Homo sapiens: one gene and its partner. The protein of the gene in region 1 purifies or fractionates together with the protein of each later gene. This does not show direct contact. Each region holds a gene or a part of one and is shown on either strand. Other genes may lie near its edges. The genes, in order: DOC2B and POTEF.

Evidence for each region.
Region 2: the proteins of DOC2B (region 1) and POTEF purify together in Homo sapiens (affinity purification with mass spectrometry; one large-scale study listed by BioGRID and IntAct). This does not show direct contact.

What each region holds. Positions count from the first base shown.
Region 1 is NC_000017.11:157,470-161,290, forward strand, and holds part of DOC2B (double C2-like domain-containing protein beta), read right to left. Parts: intron 3,479-3,821; coding exon of another isoform or gene 3,221-3,478; exon of another isoform or gene 2,860-3,220; intron 1-2,859. UniProt on the Homo sapiens protein: Calcium sensor which positively regulates SNARE-dependent fusion of vesicles with membranes. Binds phospholipids in a calcium-dependent manner and may act at the priming stage of fusion by modifying membrane curvature to stimulate fusion.
Region 2 is NC_000002.12:130,083,969-130,087,789, forward strand, and holds part of POTEF (POTE ankyrin domain family member F), read right to left. Parts: intron 2,420-3,821; coding exon 2,375-2,419; intron 2,028-2,374; coding exon 1,846-2,027; intron 1-1,845.

The DNA of each region.
Region 1 (3,821 bases):
ATTTTGATTTTGACAGAGTCTGACTCTTGTCACCCAGGCTGGAGTGCAGTGGCATGATCTTGGCTCACTACAACCTCTGCCTCCCGGGTTTAAGCGATTCTCCTGCCTCAGCCTTCTGAGTAGCTGGGACTACAGTCTAATTTTTCTATTTTTTGGTAGAGACAGGGTTTTGCCATGTCTGCCAGGCTGGTCTCGAATTCCTGACCTCAAGTGATCCACCCACCTCAGCCTCCTGAAGTGCTGGGATTACAGGTATGAGCCACCGCATCCAGATAATACCTGCGTCATCTTTAATACCTCAGGGCTGGGCAAGGCCCTGGCACTAAGGGCCCACTGGAGGCTTGTACTAGTGAAGGCAGGAATGGAGGGACAGATGGTCCCCTGTGCGTTCAACCTCATACAAGCAACTCCAGCCTGGAGGTTCAAAGAAAGGCAGAAAGGTCTGCCCATGACAATGGAGCCTGGTGGATGGAAAAGGGTCACCGTGGCCCCAGTTCCCTGAAGGTGCTACCTGGAGCCTCTCAGGGTGCTGGATGTGGCTCCCTCAGGAGAACCCCGAAGACAGAGTTCTGGTACATTCCTCACCCTGGAGAAGCTGGGAGCCAAGTAGGGAGCCCATCCAGTGCCTTCCCTGCCTCAGCAGCTGCCAGTGCCTGCCTCTCAAGGCAGATCTCAGCTCCAGGCCTCCCCATCCCCAGCCAGCCTGATGCTTCTCCATTCCTTGCCCTCCCGAGACTACCCGGCTTCTTCCTTCTGGCTGCTGCACACCCCAAACCCTCTCTCCTAGGCCCTCAGCCCCCCCAGACAAACCCAGCTTGAGCCCACCCACACACGCCCAGCTTGAGCCCTGTGTCCCCCTGGATCCCCTTAGGACTCTACCAGGCTCCTCTCCCAAGCAGCCCCAGCCACCTCCTTTTGCCCACAACCGTGCCCTGCCTAACACCAAAGTGAGTCCCTCTGGCTACATCTAACCCTTTCTGGAGATGAGACTCCTGTGAGGTGAGCAGGGATGTTGAGCAGGGAAGACATACATGCCCCACCAGCCACCTTCGCCACCTCCCACGCCCAGAGCAGACATGGCTAATCGATCCTAGCATTTGCCCTAGGCTCCAATGCCACCTCAGAATCCTTTTCAACACAGTGCTCAGGCAGCCATTCCTGGTGGATCAGGCCAGGCCTGCGAGATCTCGCTATCTGCCGCTCAGGCAGAGCTTTGTGTGTGAGGGCCTTGATGCCCTGTGCTGCTTGTGTCAGTGTGTGTGGTGTGAAAATTAAACAATATAAACTAGCAGGGGCCAGGCACAGTGACTCATGCCTGTAACCCCAGCACTTTGGGAGGCCAAGGCGGGCAGATCACCTGAGGTCAGCAGCTCAGGACCAGCCTGGCCAACATGGTGAAACCCCATCTCTACTAAAAATACAAAAATTAGCCGGGTGTGGTGGCGCATGCCTGTAATCCCAGCTATTGGGAGGCTGAGGCAGAAGAATCACTTGAACCCGGGAGGCGGAGGTTGAAGTAAGCCGACATTGCGCCACTGCACTCCAGCCTGGGCGACATAGACTCCATCTCATAAAAAAAAAAAAAAAACAACCAACCAGCAGGCATATTTTTAGCTCTTTTTTCAGGGGTGGGACATTGTACTTCGGGTTGTTTCATATGAAGACCACTGGGTCTTGCTCAGTATTGACTTAAAACAGATAATGTTCGCAGACTGTAAATTCTAAAACCTACCGCCAGAGGCCTGGCACAGGGGCTCATGCCTGTAATCCCAGCACTTTGGGAGGCCGAGGCAGGAGGATCACTGGAGGTCAGGAGTTTGAGACTTGCCTGGCCAACATGGCGAACCCCCGTCTCTACTAAAAATACCAAAATTAGCCAGGCGTGGTGGCGCACACCTGTAATCCCAGCACTTTGGGAGGCTGAGGCAGGTGGATCATTCAAGGTCAGGAGTTTGAGACACCTGGACAATATGGTGAAACCCCATCTCTACCAAATATACAAAAATTAACCAGGCGTGGCGGCACACGCCTGTAGTCCCAGCTACTCGGGAGGCTGAGGCATGAGAATTGTTTGAACTCAGGAGGTAGAGGTTGCAGTGAACAGAGATTTTGCCACTGAACTCCAGCCTGGATGACAGAGCAAGACTCAGTCTCAAAAAATAATAATAATAAAAGTACCACCAGAATGTGGCTGTACTGTCAGGGGTGCATCCCCAGCTGCACTCCTGCGGTCACTGTGAGTCCCTGAACGGCACCAATGGGCCGGTAGCGCATCCAGCAACGCCCTGATCATGGCCACGCACAGGGACGCACATGCTTTCACGAACGCACACCACACATGTGGACACACACACTGTCGCACACAGACACGTACTGACATATGCTCTTACACACAATTCACACACGAGCACACACACACACACGCTGACACCCCACGTACATACCCACGTGGTTGTTTGTTTATGCCAGTGATGAAAACTCAGGAACACTAAGGCAGGGCTGGTGTTGCTTTTTTTTTTTTTTTTTGAGACAGAGTCTTGCTCTTGCTCTTGTCACCCAGGCTGGAGTGCAACGGTGCAATCTCGGCTCACTGCAACCTCCGCCTCTCAGGTTCAAGCGATTCTCCTGCCTCAGCCTCCTGAGTAGCTGGGATTACAGGCATGCACCCCCACACCCGGCTAATTTTTTTATTTTTAGCAGAGACGGGGTTTCGCCATGTTGGCCAGGCTCTCTCGAACTCTTGACCTCATGACCCACCTGCCTTGGCCTCCTAAGATGTTGCCTTTCTTAAGTGACATAGACCATGTGGAAAAACCGGGTTACCTGTGGTTAGTGACTAACAATAAAACAGGAAAGGTTATATCCATCACACAAATGTCTGAGGGGGAGAGAATGTGACAAGGAATAAAATTGGATCAAATTCTGCAAAAGTAACTGGGATTCTGGGAAGAAGCCGTGGCCTCAGGCTGACTCGCCCCCGGGGCTTGACTTGGGCTAAGCTCGAGGTGAGTCCACGTCCCCGGGCCCCACTGGGGCTGGGTACACTGGGGACAGCCGCCGGGCTCTGTCCTCCCAAACTTGCCCCTTGCCCAGTCCTCTTAGGGGGACAACGTGCCATCGAGGGGACCATGCCTCCGCCTGTGTCCTGAACGCTGGGAGGCTGAGGCCCCAGGATTTCTCTTGACCCCAGTGGCACGGGGGACTCCTGGCTTCACCAGCCCTATGAACCAGGTGAAGGTGAGGCCATAGACAAGGGAGGATGGGGGAGGGAAGAGGGACATAGAGACCAAGACTCAGAGGGCGTAGCTGCTGGAGCAGGCCGAGGGCAAATCTGTTCTGACATAACGTTGAGACAAATGCCATTTCTAGGAAAGGATACTCTGCTGTCTCCTCTGCGTATCTCACAGGCACTCAGGTCTAACATGTTCCAAGCGTGCTCCTTGCGCGTCCTGTCCACCCGTGGTCCCTGCTGAGTCCTCTGAGTGCAGCAAACAGCCCCTCAGGCTTCAGTGGCTCAGGCCCCAAACCTCGGATCTGCCCTTCCCTCACCCAAGGACGTCCTATCTGCTGCCTGCACATCTGGTTCAGAATCAAGCCCTCCTACCGCTGCCAAGGTCAGGCCAGGGTTGTGCCCATCTCTCCCCATCTCCCCAGGCCTCCTGCCCTCTCCTCCCTCTTCTTCAAGCCATCCTGAGCCCAGGCCAGCGAGCCTGGTAAAATGTCATCCCCCATGATCCCTCAGCTTAGCACCCTCCCGTGGCCACTCAGAGTGAAAGCCAGGGTCCTTCCTCACCTCCACCCCCTTGACTCTCCATGCTCAC
Region 2 (3,821 bases), on another chromosome or scaffold:
CTTATACATAAAGACCAAGAAATACTAAAACTCTCAAGGAGAATATTTCTTGCTTGATAAAAATCAGCCAATTCTAGGACAGTTGACACTCATCAAATATACGAAGTAATTGATCACAGTAAAATACTGAGTTCTATTAACAGGAATAAAGTGGGAGAAATGCAGAAAATAATCTTATTTTATAAATGTAGTTTTCAAAATCATATGAAGTCACTGGAAAAATATGGTGAGGTAAATACTGAAATATATCCTTTTCTCAAAGGGAGGATAATGTCACACATGCAGGGCACTTTTACAAATAAAAGTCACTGCATTAGCAGCACCTTCCTTTTAGCACAAGGGTCAGCAAATAAGCACCTGTGGGCCAAATCCAGCCCACTGCCCGTTTTTGTAAGTCAAGTATCTTGGAACACAGCCATGCTTATTCACTTTACAGTCCATAGTGTCAGTTAGCTGGGTGTGATGTTGCACACCCGTGGTCTCAGCTAGTAGAGACTGAGGTCAGAGGATCACTAGAGCCCAGAAAGTCGAGGCTGCAGTCAGCCATGATCACACAACTGCACTCCAGCCTGGGAAACAGAGTGAGACCCTGTCTCAAGAAAATCAATATATGTAGTCCACAAAGCCTAAAATATTTACTAACTAGCTCTTTGCAGAAAAAGCTGGCCAACTCCTGGTTTAGTAGATCAAAGATTCTTTGATGTATTTTAATAAAAGTTTTACCAAATATACTGAAATGTTTATATTAAATATAGATCCCCATGTACAATCGCTTGGCAATATTCAGATTGAGGGTCCAATATTTCAGCACTCAGGCACTGACAACAAAAATTTAGTAACTAGCAATCTTGTTGCTAACAAGGTACAGTGTCAATGTAGCATGTAGCTTCCATTTGCAACACAGCAGATATTACAAGAAATTTAACAAGAACTCTTAAGATGTGTCATCAAACTAAACGCTTTAAATACATTTTAATTGTGAAATAATCAGTATACCCTACATCTAACCTCATTTTTTAAAAATGGTTGCATAATACATTATTTTGGGGATATGGAAATTGAGCTATTTCCTATTGATAAGGAATTAGACTAGCTCCAAATTTTTTACATAATACTATAATAAATGTCCTTATACATAAGTATACATATAACATATCTATACAAATATCCTTTACATGTATTATATATGCTTACTGTTATATATGTGTGTGTGAATATGCTACTCAATTAATGTTCAAAATGTATTTACCAACAGTATATGAAATGTCTTTTTCAATGAAACCATTTCCCCTGCAGCAACACGGATGGAGCTGGAGGCCATTATCCTAAGAAAACTCATGCAGGAACAGAAAATCAAATGCCACATATTCTTACTCATTAGTGGGAACTAAACATGAGAACTCATGGACACAAAGAGGAGAATAACATACACTGGGGCCTACTTGAGGGAGGAGCATGGCAGGAGGGAGACGACCAAAAAACTACCTTTCGAGTATTTTGTTTACTATGTGGCTGGTGAAATAATCTGTACCCCAAGCCTCCATGATACAGTTTACCTATATAATAAACCTGCACACGTACCCCGAAGCTAAAATAAAAGTTCACTGAAAAGAGAAGAAAATGTCTTTTCCCTCACATTTGCCAATACTGGTTATTTTTCAAATAAATTAATGACTGGAAAAAAAACGGTAACTGATTGTTTGCTGATTTTCATTTTTCTGATTAACAGGCAAGGCTCAATATCCTAATAAAAGTATAAAATTTGTTCATCATGAATATTAGCTCAAATTAGGATTAGTTTGGCAGCACAAAGTTACCTCCTGTTCAATGTTGCCATAGGCTTACCTGTGATACTCTTCATTCTCAGTGTCAGGAAATTGCTGGCTTTCAGGTGTTCTGCTCTTCCTTGGAGGAATTAATCCATCATCACCATTGCCAGCAGTGGCACCATTAGTCAGGTTTTCTGGGAATCCGACATGAGTACTTCTGTGCTTCTTCATTTCTTCGATAGCCATAAAATTTTCTAGCTGGAAAATACAGAGAATAAGAAATTATCTACTTTAGGCACATTATCTATTGATAATCAGACTAAAACCAAGAAAGATAAAATAATTGGTCTAAAGCTCCTAAAGTGGCATTACCTAGCATTTTATGGCACCATTCGGGATTATTCCATAATAATGAAAGAATAGCTCTAGGGTTTGCACCTCTTCAAAATTCAATGTACAGAATTCTGAGTTAACTATTTAATTTTTCACTGATGATTTATGCTACTTACATGATAGGATCATGTATGCCTACATTTACTACACTTTGTTAAACAACATAATGTAAAAATCTAATTCAACACAAACGTTTGAATATAAAGGTATACCTCTCTATCACCATCCTTATTTATTTCTGGTTCTTGAGATCTTTTCTGCAGATGTAAAAACAGAAGGTTAATTTGCTTGTTGTATTTCTGTGACATTTCCTCTTTTGGAGTGCATGTTTTTAAAATAATTTTATTCTGAAGTAATCAAGTATGGACAATAAAAATTAGAAAGTAATTAAAATTAAACTGTTAAAATAAATAATAATTAAAATTAAGAATTAACTTTTTAATCTATGTTTAGCTACTGCCACATCACTGGCTTCTAACATGTGAAAAATAATTCACCTTAGACAAAGGGAGAAGAAAAACATGAACCAGCAAACTTAACTTTCTCACTATTTGTTTGGACTAAATTTAATTTGTTATGTGTTAAATCTACCAAAAATGAATCAGCAGATGATTTGTAGTGTTCCAAAATCTTCCTCACTTGAAAAGAGTTTACCTCATGAAACCCTAACTAGTGAGCACCTACAGTGCACTGAAGTGCTTTTTTAAAAGATTCCTAACTGGATTGTAGGCACCCTTTAAACTATTAGGAGCCGAAATCAACACCAAACAGAAAGAAATGCAAATTCTCACATTTTAATTGAAATTATATACTGTCATATGATAGTGTTATGTATCCAGATTATCTGCGTAAGTCCAGTTCTAATATATTCTAATGTGTACTAATGACAGCAGATAAAATTTTTTAATCTCTACTGATTTTCTGCAACTGAAATAAATTAGAATGTTATTGTGTTTGTGCACTAACACCAAAGGTCCCATTCTGCAAGATATGGTTCTTGTAATAGGCAGTTGGGTTGCTTTTATGACCTGGTTCCCTCCCTGAACAGAAACACTGAGGTCAACGAGAGACCACAAGGCAGGATATGTCCTTAACCTTGGTATCAGTGACTGACAATATAAAACTGTGGATTTTCAATCACAGGCCATGATTACTCTTTAACCATGAATCCAGCTCAGGGAATCAGTGTTACATTGTTCATAATTCCTATTGCTTAATAATATGATTCAATCATTGATGTTACTTTCTTTATCATGTTAGGGTGTTGTAAAAATAAAAGAACAAACAAAGTTCTGAAATTTGTTTTTGCCTCTATTCCAAAAGGAGAGATTAGCTATAAGCTAATCAAGAAGGCAGATAAGAATATTTTAAAATAAGAGTATTTTAAATTTTATAGTGGGTTATGTTGAAGTTAAATATCAAATATTAAATTAGAATCTATTGATTCTTCTGTTAATAAGGTTGCTGATTTTATTACAATAAATTTTAAGAATCTATTAAAATTTTTTTTTTTTTTTTTTTCACATGGAGTCTCGCTCTGTCACCCAGGCTGGAGTGTAGTGGTGGATGTCGGCTCACTGCAAGCTCCCTCTCCTGGGTTCATGCCATTCTCCTGCCTCAGCCTCCCGAGTAGCTGGGACTACAGGCACCCACCACCAC